Linked DNA regions of Homo sapiens: region 1 is linked to region 2. The links come from fine-mapping of genetic effects on gene expression. Tissue or cell type: whole blood. Region 2 holds a variant in brackets; the other region holds the start of a gene. All regions are shown on one strand. Distances are from middle to middle.

What was found. PIP is the estimated chance that this variant, and not a neighbour inherited with it, causes the effect.
Region 1: it holds the start of CUZD1, and the variant in region 2 is fine-mapped to the expression of CUZD1 in whole blood (TOPMed, PIP above 0.99).

The regions. Positions count from the first base shown.
Region 1 is chr10:122,841,673-122,849,764 of GRCh38, forward strand. CUZD1 (CUB and zona pellucida like domains 1) reads right to left here and starts at 4,185. Exons shown (of 9, transcript NM_022034.6): 1 at 4,090-4,185. The coding sequence starts at 4,171. FAM24B (family with sequence similarity 24 member B) reads right to left here. Exons shown (of 4, transcript NM_152644.3): 4 at 7,406-7,767. The coding sequence ends at 7,575. It overlaps FAM24B-CUZD1 (FAM24B-CUZD1 readthrough), which reads right to left. Exons shown (of 11, transcript NR_037915.1): 3 at 4,090-4,548. RefSeq lists enhancers at 3,973-4,474, 4,475-4,974, 5,041-5,922.
Region 2 is chr10:123,005,086-123,013,192 of GRCh38, forward strand. IKZF5 (IKAROS family zinc finger 5) reads right to left here and starts at 3,710. Exons shown (of 5, transcript NM_001372123.1): 1 at 3,609-3,710; 2 at 1,941-2,091. It overlaps ACADSB (acyl-CoA dehydrogenase short/branched chain), which reads left to right and starts at 3,921. Exons shown (of 11, transcript NM_001609.4): 1 at 3,921-3,986. The coding sequence starts at 3,945. RefSeq lists enhancers at 2,987-3,216, 3,497-3,826. The variant G/A (reference allele first, on the strand shown) is at 4,616.

The DNA.
Region 1 (8,092 bases), 160 kb before region 2:
CATAAGAAACTGCCAAACCATTTGCCAGAGTAGCTGTTCTATTTCACAATCCAACCAATGATGTATGAGAGTTCCAGTTGCACCACATTCTTGTCAACACACACTATTGTCAGGTTTTTGTATTGCTTTGTATAGCCATTCTAACAGATGTGTAGCAGCATCCCATCATGGTTTTAACTTACATTTCCCTAATGGCTAATGACATTGAACATCATTTCATGTTCTTATTTGCCTTCTATATATCCTTTTTGGTAAGTATCTCTCAGTCTTTTGCCCTTTTTTTTTTAACTTGGCTTTTTGTTTTCATGATTGGGTTTTGAGAGTTTTTTATATATGCTGAATACAAGTCCTTTGTTGCATCTGCAATTTGAAAATATTTTCTCCCAATCTGTATCTTGTCTTTTCATCCTCTTAACAGTGTCTTTCCCAAAACAAAAGTTTTAAATCTTTTATAAAGTCCAATTTAGTAATAGTTTCTTTTATGGGTTGTGCTTTTGGTGTCTTGTCTAAGAACTCTTTGCTCAACCCCAGGTTACAAAGATTTCTCCCATGTTTTCTTTTTAAAAATACTATAGTTTTACATTTTACATTTAGATCTATGATCCATTTTGAACTAATTTATGTGTAAGAAATGAGGCTTAGGTTGAGTTCATTTTTTGCATATGGGTGTCCAATTGTTCCAAGACCATTTGATGAAAAGGCTGTCCTTTCTCCATTAAATTGCCTTTGCACCTTTGTCAAAAATCAAAGGACCATATTTGTGTGGATCTATTTCTGAACTCTATTCTATTTCAATTTTCTCTGTCTATCCTTTTGGCAAACCACACCTGCTTGATTACTGTAGTTTATGTTATTACTGTAGGTAACATGACTGTTCCAACTTTACTGTTCTTTTGCAAAATTTTTTTGGCTATTCCAGTTCCTTTGCTTTTTCAATAAATTTTAGAGTCAGCATGTCTGTATCTATTTAACATTCTTACTGGGATTTGTATTGGAATTGCACTGAATTTATAGATCAACCTGGGAAAAAAAGGATGGTTTTTAAAAGACACTTGATTTCTAGAATGTATAAAGAATTCTTACAATTCAATAACTAAAAGGCAAATAATCCAATTTAAAATGGACAAAGAACCAGAATAGACATTTTTCCAAAGAAGATCTATAAATGGCCAATATGCATGTAAAGATATATTCAGCATCATTAGTCATCAGGGAAATACAAATGAAAACCACAACGAGATATCACTTCACATGCATTAGGATGGCTAGAGTCAAACACAGAAAACAGCAAGTGTTGACAAGGACATGGAGAAACTGGAATGCTTATACACTGCTTATGGGATTGTAAAGTGGTACAGCTGCCATGGAAAACAGTCTGGCAGTTCCTCAAAAGAGTAAACATACAGTTATCATAACCCAGCAATTCTATTGCTAGGCATATCCCCAAAAGAAATAAAAACAAATGTCCACATAAAAACTTGTATACTATATTCATCGCAACATTAGTCATAATAAGCCAAATGTTCATCAATTGATGAATAAATAAAACATGGTCTATCCATACATTGGAATATTATTCAGCAATAAAAAGAAATGAGGTACAGTCATCCCTTGGTGTCCACGAATGATTGGTTCCAGGACCCCCTGTGGATACCAAAATCCATGGATGTTGGAGTCCCTTATGTAAAATGACAGTGTTTGCATGTGACCTACACACATCCTGTACACTTCAAAACATCTCTAGATTATTTATAATACAGTGTAAATGATGTGTAAATAGTTGTTTACTATATTATTTAGGAAATAACAGCAAGGAAAAAAGTTTGTACATGTTCTGTAACCAACCCTTATTTTTTCAAATGTTTTCAATTCATGGTTGGTTGAATCCATGAATGCTGAACCCACAGGTACTGAGGGCTGATTGTACTGATACATGCTACAATACATACGAACCTTGAAAATATTATGCTAAGTGAAATACCACATATTACATGATTTCATTTATGTGAAATATCCAGAATAAGTAAATTTATAGAGACAGAAAGTAGAGTAGTGGTTTCCTTGTGCTGGAGACATCAGGAGAAATGGAGAGTGAATGGTAGTGAATACAGACTTTCTTCATACATATATATACATACATATATATATATATATATATATGTCCACACAGAAACTTGTACACTAATATTCATCACATTAGTCTATATATAATATACAGTTATATATATTGTTAGATATATTTATATATATATAAAACATTGGTCTATATATAGAGACTATATATATAGACTATATAAAGACTATATATAGACTATAGAGAGACTATATATATAGAGAGACTATATATAAATATATATATATATAGAGAGAGGGACAGACAGAGTCTCACTCTGTTACCTATACTGGATTGAGATGGCACAATCATAGCTTACTGCAGCCTCAAACTACTGGGCTCAAGTGATCCTCCCACCTCAGCCGCCAGAGTAGCTGGGACTACAGTCATGTACCACCATGCCTGGCTAAAAAAATTTTTTTTTTAATTTTGTAGAGTCGAGGTCTCACTACGTCGTTCAGGGTGGTCTCAAACTCTCAGCCTCAAGCAATGCTCCCATGTCAGCCCCCCAAAGTGCTGGGATTGTAGGCTTGAGCCATCATGCTGAGCCTGAGACAGTTTCTTTTGGGGGTGAAGAATATGTTCTGGAATTAGATAGTGGTGATTGTTGCACAATTCTGTGTATATACTAAAAAACACTAAATTGTATACTTTAAAATGGTGGATTTTATGGTATGTTAATCATATCTTAATAAAGCTGTTATTAAAAAGGAGAAAGAAGAGAAGAAAGAGAAAAGGGGAAGAGGAAAAATAACTGGATCCTAAAGATAAGCTGTTAGCAGTGAAATTACCCGGTAAGGGGCTGGGCGTGGTGACTCACACCTGTAATCCCAGCACTTTGGGAGGCCAAAGCGGGTGGATCACTTGAGCTCAGGAGTTCGAGACCAGCCTGGGCAACATAGTGAAAATTTTTTTCTATAAAATTTTTAAAAATTATTTGGTAAATTCTTATATTTTTATGTATGTTGTCAGATGGGCCCAAATAAAATTAGTACTAATTCAAAATCCCACCAAGATTTTGACTAATGGTCAAAAACCCCACCTACATAGGAACAAAGCTTTATTTTTATTTATTCTCCCATATACTCCCATAACCCCATCCATCCAGAAACAATCATCACTAAAACCTTGGTGTAAATTCTTCCACTCCTTTTCCTTTCCTCTTCTATTTCTAGACATTTAAAATGCTTGAATGTATATATTTCAAACATAAGAACCATCATATTGTACACAAACTTCAGATCTCTTTTTTCTCTTAATGTGGTCTATGGACACATTATAGATCAGAGTCTTTTTTTTTTTTTTTTATGAGACGGAGTCTTGCTCTGTCACCCAGGCTGGAGTGCAGTGGCATGATCGCAGCTAACTGCAACCTCCACCTCTCGGGTTCAAGCGATTCTCCTGCCTCAGCCTCCCGAGTAGCTGGGACTACAGGCACGCATCACCACACCTGGCTAATTTTTGTATTTTTAGTAGAGATGGGGTTTCACCATGTTGGCCAGGCTGGTCTCGAACTCCTGACCTCGTGATCCACCCACCTTGGCCTCCCAAAGTGCTGGGATTACAGGCGTGAGCCACCGCCCCCAGCCATCATTTTTTTTTAAGTTGCAAAAAAGAGTGTTCCATTTTATGGATTTACCGTAAGAAATAATGAAAATTCATGTTGTAGTTTACAATTATGTAAGTGCACATATTTATACATATATCTTTGGACACTTTTATGCTTATTTCCAAAACATAAACTCTTAGCAGTAAATTACTCAGTAAAATTCTATACACTTTTGATATTTTTATGGACATTGTCAGATGAGCCAAATAAAATTAGAACTAATTTAAAATCCCCTCCAAGAGCATTAGAGTACATTTTTCTCTGAACTGGGGCCAACAGATATAAACACTTTGAAAAATTTTGAAAGAGGCCTCTTAAGAGAAGAACTTCTCTGTTTTGGTGAATAAATCTGGTTCAATTTTCTTACCTTCAGCCTCCGCCATTGTCAGCTCCGCCAAACAGGAGAGAATTAAGAGGGTCAATGGCATGAGCCTTCTTACAAGCTCCATTTTGGCAAGGCGCTGGGCAGCCTTAAGGACCGACAGCTTTTATAGGCTCTGTGTTACATCAGCTTTCTGGACACCTCCAGGGAAACGTCAGTTCCAGCCACGCAAGGGGTAGATTTGTGTGAGAATAGAGCAGCTGTGTGACTGGTTTATCAGCATTCCCCACAGTGAGGGTTCTCTCTCCCCAACTCCTTCCTGGAAGGGTTGCCCCCAGTGGAAGCTCTCTGTAGGGATCTCCAGCAGCTGGTTCCCAGCAGGCACTGAGTTATTTTCCATGAAACTGATGGGGAGCTGTGCCTTTCTTCTGTGCCTGCACATCACAAACAGGTGGCCTCATTGACATCATTGAAGTCTTCAGGGCTCTGCTTTGAGAAGGGAGCCTGTGGGAGAACAAAGGCCTGTGGGGCAAGGCAGGGGGTGCAGCACCTGGGCAAAATCTGGGTCCAGCTGGGACATTCAGATGCCCTGCCAGGTGGCTGACCCTGTGGGGGAGGGGAAGAGGGTAGAGGATGAAGAGAAAAAGAGTGCAGATCCAGATTCCCCCACAGCGATTTCTAACCAGTTATGTCTGGAGAGACTGAAGCAGGTGAATTAGTCTCTCGGGCACGGTGTTTTGCAGTTGAGAGAAAGAAATCCTAGTGTCCACATTGAGATTGGGAGGAGCAAGTGGTGGTGGGTGGGGGCTGCCCTCTTTTCATTCATTCAGTCAGTAAACATTACTTATTGATCTAGGGCCTAAGCAATATAGAATTGAATGTGAGAGACACAGTCCTGCCCTCATGAAACTTGTATTCTAAGTGGAGAGTTAAACAACAAAAATAAATGAAGAATTCAACTGGTGAGAGGAGCTAAGGATACAATAAACAGGATGACTGCATAGATGGTGGTTGCCTTGGGGTGGGGAGGAAATATGACAGTGAGAAGGAGGGCATCTTGAGAGATGAAATCTGAACAAAGGCAGAAAGACAAGAGGGAGGCATTCATGGGTGATCTGAGCTTGGGGGCTGCATCTTAGGCAAAAGAGAGGGCAAGTGCACAGGCCCCGAGGCAGAGACCAGGTGGGCACACCTACAATAGTAGGGAATAAAGAACAGCCTGGCTGGTCATGAGTGGGAGGAGTGAGCTGGGAGGGGAGGATGGAGAGGAGCAGGTGAAGGTCAGATGGGGAAGGACCCATAGGGCAAATGAGTCTGGTTTTCACTCTAAGTTCAGGTGGAACATATTGAGTGGACAATGCCAGGACTGGCTACTTTCTGAAGAACCTTTGTGCAGCTCTGGGGAGGTCTGACGCTCGTGTAGGCTAAGTCTCCTAGGGTGAAACCCTCTGGCTACCGTCAGCCCCTCTGTGTTGTTCTGACTGTGCTGCAGCCCAGGAGGCCTCCCTAGGGAGAGCACAGTCCTACGTTGTGACCCAGGGGATCCATTCCTCGTTGGACCCTTGCAGGGGAAAGGCAGCACCTGGGATGCTCAGGAGGAGCTTGGACATACCCCAAGGCCCCTGCCTTGCTCTGCTCCATTCCTATCTGCCCGGGCTGGCTGTGGATGAGGCAGGACTGGGTGTCCTGGGGTGAGTTAGCAGGCCACAGGTGTTTGAGATGGGGGACCCTTCTGGTTACTAAGCGCTTGCAGCTGTGTCCATGGATACCCACTCCCACCCTGGGCTTTCCCTCTGAACCCCTCTTTGTCACCCATGGCTGGGATCTCCAACATCCCTAATCCATCTCCACTGAGTGCGAGAGTTTCATGGCCACACTCTGTTAGGTGGCCCTGGCAAAGGACCCAGGCTTCCAGATCCAGTCAGGAGAGAAGCCCCCTTCAGGCCTCTGGCAACTTCCTGGGGACCACGGGGTGCTGTGGGGTCACCCTGCATCATCTCATTGCTTCTTCTCTGTCACCTGTGCAAGTCCGCACTTCACATCAAGGACACAGAGGCTCAGATGAGTCAAGGGACTTCCCCTGGTGAAGGCCGAATTGGGATGGGAACCGGCTCCATAGGGCTCTAAAGCCCATGTGCGGTGCTCTGTCCTCCTGCTAATGGGGGTGTCCTGAAGACCTTTGTCCCACCTCCCTCACGGCCCCCGCAATACCTGCACCAGGTATAGTCACCCACATGGGGAGGCCCTGGCACAGGCGTCCTGGATCCAGGCACTGGGCCACCCACTGGGTGGGGTAAGAGGGGATTTGTATGTGCTCCATCTGTCAGAGCTGGCTGGTGACAAGAGAAAATCAAAGGCAGGGGACAGAGACAGTGCCCGGAAACTTAAGGGGGACAGGTGACCTCCAGCTGGAGGCTGCCCTGACTTGGCCTCTTCCCAAGCATGCTGGGGCTGGAGGCTCAGCCTCCAGGAGGTGCTCGGCGTCTACAGGCAGCTCCTCCACCCACATCTGGCCTGTTTCTGTGCCTAGCTGTCACAGCTGTTTCCTTCATTTGCGACTTCTGTTTTCCTTTTTACCCCCTTTTAGTAGATTACCACCTGTTACTAGCTAATAATTCTTTACATTCAGTATACATGTGATGGTCACAAGCAAGGGTTTAGTTCATGAGAGGAGTGGACATGGCGGTTACAGATAGGGAATCATGCTTAGAAAGGGGTTCCAGGAGGCTCAGGGGCAGGAGCTGGAACAGAAGGCAGCTGGGAGTAAAGTGGGGAGGAGTGCTTCCTGCCACCTGCTGTTGTGGTCAGGGAGTCTGGGCTTTGGCCTTTGGCTGGTGGTTCGTGTTACAGTTGAAGATGTTGATGGCTGGATCAACACACATCACTGTTACCGTAATCCACGCAGGAGCCACATGCTCTGGAGATTTGGGGATTGCAGTAGGAAGAAACTGGTTTTCAAAAGGTCCTTTTGAGGTCACTGAGCTCAGGCCTATCTTACACAGGTCAGACAACTTTAACACAGGGAGGTCCTGCCTGGCTCCTCTCACTGTCTTGGATAAATGGACAGGACAACAGGACAGGTATCAGGACATGACACCATTTTCTGCGGTGGATGTCAACCATCCAAGCCCTCACGAGAGCTAAACGAGCGACTCCAGCTGGACAAGATCAGCTGGGCTGAAATTGGAAGTGTCCTAAGAACAGTGTGCATTTTCCTTCTCGGGTGGGAGATGTGCTGGACACTTTTATTCCAATTCTCTTTCTTCTATTGCAATGCTACAAGCTAATCCCCCCCCACATTCCAAAGTGAGTAATAAATATATTTAAACAAAGGATGTTTATAATCAACAATCAAAAAATATTGGCAGCAAAGAGGATTATTTTTAATAGTGTACATTTATTCAAAAGTATATAAAACAACACTGTAAATTATATAATCTCACATAAAAACACTAGAACTTGATTTGAATAACAAAACAATCTACTAAGAAGTATTGCTCATGAAGATTTTTGTGCCCACCTTTCCTAACTCAGAGGCCCTCATTTATGTCGCAACAGCAAGGTGGCAGGGAATCAAAACTGGCACACATTCTATATCCTTCACAGCACTGCAGGGCAGGACAAGACTCCGTGGCAATGGTTTTGGCCTGGCTGTTCTTGGCCCACCACACCTTGTCTGGGTTGTGATTTTTTACAGCCACAGCTTCAGGTTCCTTTGCAGCTCTTGAGAAAAGACACACACAAAGCACAGGCTTAGAATTTTTCTTCTCAGCCCTTTTGTTAGAACTGTTGGGGGGTATCTGGGGAGTTTAGTGCTGAAGCCAGTCAAACATGAACACCAGCCCTACATTAAAGCTCTCTCCCCCATCCCAAGTTCCTCTCGAATCCTTTCCTCTTCTATGATTGCTATAAATGTAAACTGAGGTTACAAAAGCAAGAGTGAGTGATTTTGCAAGCAAGGTCACCCAACTGGTCACTGCAGGCCCCCGAGATGCAGGAATGATGGGAAGGTGCTGCATTTGGCTGTGTCCCAGGCTCCGGGATGTGC
Region 2 (8,107 bases):
CAAGACCAGTCCAGGCAACAGAGCGAGACCTCATCTCTAATTTTTAAAAGAAAAAAAAAATTTCTGGAACTACAAAAGACTTCCTCTTATAGAAAGAAAATAAAGGTTTTCTATCTGAGCCATTTTCCTGTCTTTGATGTAATTATCATCAGTCTCAAGTCTCAAAGTTTAATCTAGGAACTCCACAAATTAACTGATACCCAGAGATGCCTCTAAGGCATTGATAAATTTTAAAACCTTTGCAAACATAACAAAATATACTTTAGAAAATCCACAAGCTATAATTTTTTTAGTGGTATCTTTCCTATACTGGACATGAACTCAATACCTTGGTGTTTGTTAGCCAAAAAATTACTTACTTAACACAAAATTTCAATGTATGATATCATGTCATCTGAACAAGAAATATACTTAAGTATTCTCCAGTATTATTACAGATGTGGGTGGTGTTATTACAACTCAGATGTACTCTTTCTGCTGGTATCGTCATGGACTGAATGTTTATGTCCCCAAAAGCTGATATGTTGAAATTCTAACCCCCAATTTGATGGCATCTGGAGTGGGGCCTTTGAGAAATAATTGGGTTGTAAAGGTGAAGTCCTCTAAATGGGATTAGTGCCTTGTGAAGAGATCCAGAGATCTTGCTTCCTCTCTGCTCTTTGCCATGAGAGGATACAATCAGAAAGCAAGCCCTCCCCAGATACCTGATCTGCTGGCACCTTCATATTAAGATTTCCCAGCCTCCAGAACTGTGAGAAATAAATGTTTGTTTAAACCACTCAGTCTATGGTAATTCGTTACAGCAACCTGAACTAAGATATCTAATCATATCAACCAAAGAGAACAATATCCCCATACTTTATGATGATTGTTCCTTATGATATAGCAAAATTCCCAAATCCTTCCTGTGATTATTCTGATTAAAGTTAAGTTGAATATAGTATGGAATTCCATGGGGTGTAGGTGGATATCTATATAGAAACTGGCTAGGGTATACCTAAAGTATTGTCATGCCAGTAGCGTCCCCCAATTTATTATTCAAGGCTCAAAATCAATGCTTTCAGAAAACAACCAGAGGCTATGCAAGCCGGTAGGGGGAAAAGAGGTATAAGAGAATTAAGCTTTGATATCCCAAAGAACAGGAAAACCTCTACCTCAAGTAGGTAATTTAGGCTAATTTCCGATCTTCCTTGGTTTCTGATAAAGGATTTATTTTGTATGAAGTCGTCTGATCTTTCTTCTTCAGTCTCATAAATGGGAAGCTGTTGATCAATGCAAGCATATATACAAGCACACACACACAATTACATGTGTGTATATATGTGCACCCCCCCCAGCCTCTTAACCAGTAGCTAATAATTTAAAACACAGGCACTGAAATGCAAATTAGAAGGCATTCACAACTATGAAACAACCAGAGAAGAAGCTCTCTAACCTATCTTCCTTCTTCCTTCTATCTTTTTTATAAACTGTGGGAGAATTTTGAGAACATGATTAGGGAACAGCAGGATATGTTTCGTTCACCTAGCATTCATGAGAAGTCTTACTTCTCATAGGTAACCATAAGGAAGAATACAATATTAGCAACTAATTTACTTACATAATAATTTATGGGTAAGGCAGGCCTATACACATAAAGTGATTACAGTTCAATAGATGTGTTTACCCTCCATAGCCTAATAATTATGGTCACTGAGATTTACTCTGCTATAGAACACATATAAACAGACAACGTTGACAAATAAGGATTGGTTTCTATGGAGTAACATGGGCCTTCCAAAATAATTGGAACACAATTCCTGATTTCAGAACTGTCAAAAACTCTTGAAGGCAAAAAAAGAAATTATGAGGCTCTGAGAAATCAGAAATCAAAACATAAAAATAAAACATAAGTAAAACCATGTTGAAAGAAATCCAGAAGAGAAATTATACAATCTAACCTTTTCACCCCAAATCTGTTCCTCCTTTTTCTTGCCACTCCAACATTGATGAAATGTAGAGTAATTGAAATTTACTTCGGAGATACAGCAAGGGACTCCAAAAGGCCATGGAGAGAGAATTTCAACTAAAATTGAAAAGCCATACAGAGGTCTGCATAAAAAACAAACAGCACACCACAAATCAAAACCTTTAAGATAAAAACTTAATTAGCATCTACAGGTTGAATGAGCTAGTAACTTATGCCAATCTTATCATTACATTAGCTGAAAAGAAAACGAACTGACAGATTAATCAAAGAACAAAGCAGTAGCTTCACTTCAGCAAAAGCTCCATAGGATCACCAAAGAATAACTGGTGTGACTACCGTTTTCTCACTGGTGGATTAGTTTTTGGCAAGATTTTTAATGTCTAAATTTAAGTTAAACTTCAGTTTAAAGAAATTAAGATTAACTTCATTTAGTCACAGCACACTTCCAAAACGGTCAAGCTTAGTACTGCTGAACAGCTGTAGTTGCATAAAAACAACGCATAGTCCTAAGTAGGGAAATGGGAAAGGGCTTTAAATACAAAAACAAAAAAAACATGCACACCCGATAAGGGCACATCTGAATCCCATCCTTCTTATCCTATCATAACACAAAACAGCTACGGTTTTCTGGGAAACATCCTGGACCGCTAGGGGAAAATAACACCAGACATTTCAATTCACTGTAACGAACTCTCATCAATAATAATAACCTTTAGCTGTTGTGACAACACGACATAAATCAAAATTAAATTGAATTTTTAAAATTGTTAGTTCCTACGTTTAAAAAAAAGTTGTTTTAAATACATTCTGTTCTTTCAAAACTGAATTTCCTCAGATCACACAATTTAAGACGCCTTTATGTCTTCTTCCGCTTGTCACACGTCTTTCGGGTTCTGACCAGCACATCAAGGGGACTCTAAGCAGGCCACGTGGTTAGTGTTTGCTAGAACTTGTTTAGCTTCAGATCCAGTCATCGAGCATGCTAGGCTTGGCTACTCGCGCTCCACACAGTTTATCCAAAGATCTAAACCCCGAATGAACCTGAATAGTTATTTGCTACAATGTCTTTCTCAAATCTCACATGTTCCTAAAATAAGGGTGCCCATGCAGTAGAGACGGATCCGGGCAGGATCATTAGATAAAATACGAAGGCTTTAAACGTCCTTCTCCCAACAATCAGCCTGGGACCGGCGTCGGGGCAGCAGCCTCACCAAGATTCGGAGCGACATCCTCGCCAGGATTCGAAACACCTAGGAGACCCGCGCCCGGCTGACTCCCAGCCCCTGGGACCCCGTGAAGACGCAAACCTCGGGACGCCTCCCGCAGAACCACCTGTCAGAGCCAAGCAACAGTCCCCGCCCCGGAGCCTCCGAGCTCCTGCTCGAAGGCAATGACAGCAGGAGACCCCGCTCCCTCGGGGTTCTCGCGGCCATAGGCGCCGCAGTCCACTGCCCTCCGGCTAAAGAGGTCCCGGGCCATCACCTGCCCGCCTACCGACCACGCCCGACCCTCCACTGAACTGAGTCTCCGTCCGGATCAGCCGGCCCGCCACGAACCCAGCTCCAGTCTCCGGCCGCTCCTTCTTATCCGCCCTGTCCTGCCGCGTCGCCGCCGTCCGAGCCGGCAGCCTGCTACTTACCTCCTGACAACTGCATGGAGTAAACCACACCGCCTTGTTAAATGCCGTCGCCGCCGCCGCCGTCTTCGTCACCGTCACAGTCGCCGCCGCCATCTTTGTTGTGTCTCCGACTCCCTTCCCGCCCCCCTGCCTTGCTCAAGTCTCGCGTGAGCAGGATGGAGGGCGAAAGCGAGGAGGGGCCTGTTTGTCTCTCTTGGGGTTCCGTAGGCAGCAGGGGGCAGGGATTAAGGGGGGGTGTGTGCGGGGCGGGTACTGAGTGGGCGGGGCCTTGCTCGGGTAACTCCCAGGGGCTGGCTAGAGACCCAGAGGCGCAGAGCGGAGAGGCCTGCGGCGAGGATGGAGGGCCTGGCAGTGCGGTTGCTGCGCGGCAGCAGGCTGGTGAGTGCGTTCGAGGCTGGCGTCCTGGGGGCCCAGGGCGACCTTGGCCCCTGGAATCGCAGCTGGCAGAGCCTTCTAACGGGCCTCGGGGCGCCGGCCTGAGCCCCGCTCCACGTCCTGGGTCCCCAGACTCTTTACCCGCGGGCAGTCTATGACCCCGACCCCCTTCAGGCCTCTGGTGGAGGCAGCTGGTGGCAAGGGGGTCGGGGCTGTCTAGAAGCTGCTTTGGCGGAGCAAGTACCTTGAGTGGAGTCGGAGGGTCGCGTCCGCAAGATGTCCTTTGCAGGCCGTTGCGTCCTGAGAGCCACCGAGTCTGGATCTCTGGATCTCTGGATGCATTTTGCACAGATGTCACCTCCCTGATGCCCTAACGCACCTTTCCCGAGTGATTACATTTCACACCCCCTCCCCCAAAAAAGATAGTTAAAATATAGGCCCAGTCTCATTCTGAGCAGGTGTCTCCCTGTCCTTCCTTCCGCGGCCCCGCTCAAAGGTAGTAAGGGACTTCGGAGTTGTTCGGGCTTCCCGGCCAGGGACAGAGTTCCCTCTGCCCCTTATCTCATGTCTGGAGCCTGGGTATCTTCCGTGGATAGACTCACCGCCGCCCAGGGGAGCCGGAGCCGGTGCCG[G/A]TCCCTCTTCCATGAACTTAAGCTGAAACCAGCCTCTTGTTGTGCTTAATTCTTATCTGTGCACCCACACAAACTGTTAACAGCCCCTGTGTTAACATCCTATGCTCTTCACCCCTTGGACCTATTATATAGCATGCTTTTCAGAACATACACATTTGGATACACTTGTATTTGTCAGTACACTTCACTGGGAATTTTCCCACTGCTTACGTGTGCTTTTAATGTTTCCTTTGCATTTGCTTTAATGAGTTAGGCTTTCCAACTGCTGCTTCAGTCTTATGCCCAGAGGCAGAACTCTGACCCTTTTTCTTATTAGAGATAATTAATGTTATTTGACTGTTTTACAGGCCTGAAGTGCAATAAAAAACAGTAAGTGATTATTGTTTAATACTGTTTATAATTGTTGGTTAATAACTTAGCAAAGAAAATTTCTTTGGTTTTACAATTTGACTCTGTTTTAGAGCCAAAATTTATTGACCGCATACTCTGTGGTAGGCACGTTCTCGTTCTACCTGAGTCATCTCAATTCTCACAACCATCTTAACAAGTAGTTTAATCTTGCAGATGCTGAAAAAGAATAATAGCTTGCCCACAGATAGAAAGGGATAGAGCTGGTGGTATTCGAACTCTGGTCTGATTCTAAACTTAACCTTCATATACTACTGTCTCCCCGTCCTTAGAGATATCAAAAACCTATTTTGTTTGAACTTTTGGTTTATTGTGGCTTATAGTCCTTTATAGTTTTTGAAGCTCTTTTACATAAATTAGCTAAATTGATTGAACATCGACTGTAGCATAGTGGTTAAGAACGTAGGTTCTGTAGCTAGGCTGCTTGGATCTGAACCCAGGCCCTCTCACTTCCTAGTGGTATAACCTTGGACAGGTTATGCTTTGGGTCTCAGTTTCCTGGTCTGTAAATGGAGAGAATAATTGTGCGTATTCCAAAATTGTTGTGAAAATTAAATGAGCTCATATGTTCATGTAAGGCACTTAGAATAGTGCTCGGAATGTAGTCAGCTCTCGGTAAATATCAGCTCTTACTGCCATGCACGAAGCATTGTGTGCTATGCCAGATGTAATAATGAATAAAATACTCTACCTCCAAGAAGTTTATCTTTTAGAGGAAAGGTTAGAACTATGTGCAACTAACCCCATGTCATGTAGGTGTGGAACAAATCCTAAGGGGCTACAGTCTGCGTGCAGATTCAGAAGATAGAAATGACTAGGACCATTGGGGAAGTGATAGGCTCTTTGGAAGCTGGGTTAGAGTTTAGGAGGGGAAAGGAGTGGTCAGAAAACTGCAACAAAAGGGGACTGAGGCCACTTTAGGGAATTGGGGGTTGATCCTTTTGGATTGTTAGGAGCCATTGAAGGTCAAGAGCTTTGGAGTTTCCTCATGCCACAGTGTAGGTAGATGGCTGTGGACACAAGTGGCATGGAGTGGGGAGAAATGCAAGGTAGGGCTAATTTTGGTTTCTATCCAGAGGCAAATGGAAAGCTAGCATTTACTCACTTATTGTAGACCAGGGACAGCATTTTACACCCACTACCCTATTTACTCTTCCTGTAAACCTCTGAAGTAGGTATATTAGTGGCTTCATCTTGCAAATGAGGAACTCGGAGGCAATAACCAGTGTTCCCAAGTCACATAACAATCAGATTGCAATGCTGACCTTCAGCCTACCCCTGCCTTCTCAGAAGGTCTCTCCTAGTCCTGCAGATGGATTAGAACTGTCCTGCCCATTTGGTCTAAGCAACCCAATTAGTGGAGAATTGGACCTTGTAGTTAACCTGTGGTTCCAAAGCATTTTAATGTAGCTTGATATCTTTTTTTTTTTTTTTTTGAGACGGAGTCTTACTCTGTCGCCCAGGTTGGAGTGCTGTGGTGCGATCTCAGTTCACTGTAACCTATGCCACCCGGATTCGAGCGATTCTCCTGCCTCAGCCTCCCGAGTAACTGGGATTACAGGCGCCTGCCACCTTGCCTGGCTAATTTTTGTAGTTTTAGTACAGATGGGGTTTCACCATCTTGGTCAGCAAGATGGAAATGGTCTCAAACTCCTAACTTCATGATCCACCCGCCATGGCCTCCCAAAATGCTGGGATTACAGGCGTGAGCCACCACACCAGGCCGCTTGATGTCTTTTAAGAGATGATTTTTTTTTTTTTTAGACAAGTTTTCACTCTCTTGCCCAGGCTGGAGTGTAGTGGCGTGATCATAGCTCACCGTAACCTTGAACTCCTGGCTCAAGTGATTCTCTGACCTCAGCTCCCCGGGAGCTAGGACCACAGGCATGTGTCACTGCACCTGGCTAATTTTTAAAGTGTTTTGTAGAGATGAGGTCTCACTGTGTTGGCCAGGCTGGTCTGGAACTCCTGGCCTCAAGCGATCCTCCCACCTCACCCTCCAAAATGCTGGGATTACAGGCATGAGCCATTGCACCCAGCCAAGAGGTGATTCTTGACAAATATCCTTGACGTGAATTCTTGTTCAGTTAATTCTCTGGACATCTGCCAGACAGCAGCTGCCAAAATACATATAATTCTTGTTGTTTAACTTTTTGCTCTTCAACAAAACCAGAAGTATTTTTTCTGGACATATATTTGGCATCCAGGTAGAGAGAACACAAATGGTTTGAATGTGTCCCCCAAAATTCATGTGTTGGAAGCTTGATCCCCAGTGCGGAGGTTTTGAGTGGTGGGGCCTAATGGGAAGTGTTTGGGTCATAGTGTGTCCAGAATTGGTGGGTTCTTGGTCTCACTGACTTCAAGAATGAAGCCACGGACCCTCGCGGTGAGTGCTACAGTTCTTAAAGGCGGTGTGTCTGGAGTTTGTTCCTTCTGATGTTCGGATGTGTTCGGAGTTTCTTCCTTCTGGTGGGTTTGTGGTGTCACCGGCTCAGGAGTGAAGCTGCAGACCTTCACGGTGAGTGTTACAGCTCTTAAGGCGGCACATCTGGAGTTGTTCGCTCCTCCCGGTGGGCTTGTGGCCTCGCTGGCTTCAGGAGTGAAGCTGCAGACCTTCGCGGTGAGTGTTACAGCTCATAAAGGCAGTGTGGACTCAAAGATTGAGCAGCGGCAAGATTTATTGCAAAGAGCTAAAGAACAAAGCTTCCACAGTGTGGAAGGGGACCCGATTGGATTGCCACTGCTGGCTCGGCAGCCTGATTGGTCTGTTTTACAGACAGCTGATTGGATTGGTCTGTTTTGACAGGGTGCTGATTGGTGCATTTACAATCCCTGAGCTAGACACAAAAGTTCTCCACCTCCCCACTAGATTAGCTAGATACAGAGTGCTGATTGGTGTATTTACAAACCCTGAACTAGACACAGAGTGCGGATTGGTGCATTTACAAACCTTGAGCTTGATACAGAGTGCTGATTGGTGTATTTACAATCACTTAGCTAGACATAAAGATTCTTCAAGTCCCCACCAGATTAGCTAGATACAGAGTACCGATTGGTGCATCCACAAACCCTGAGCTTGATACA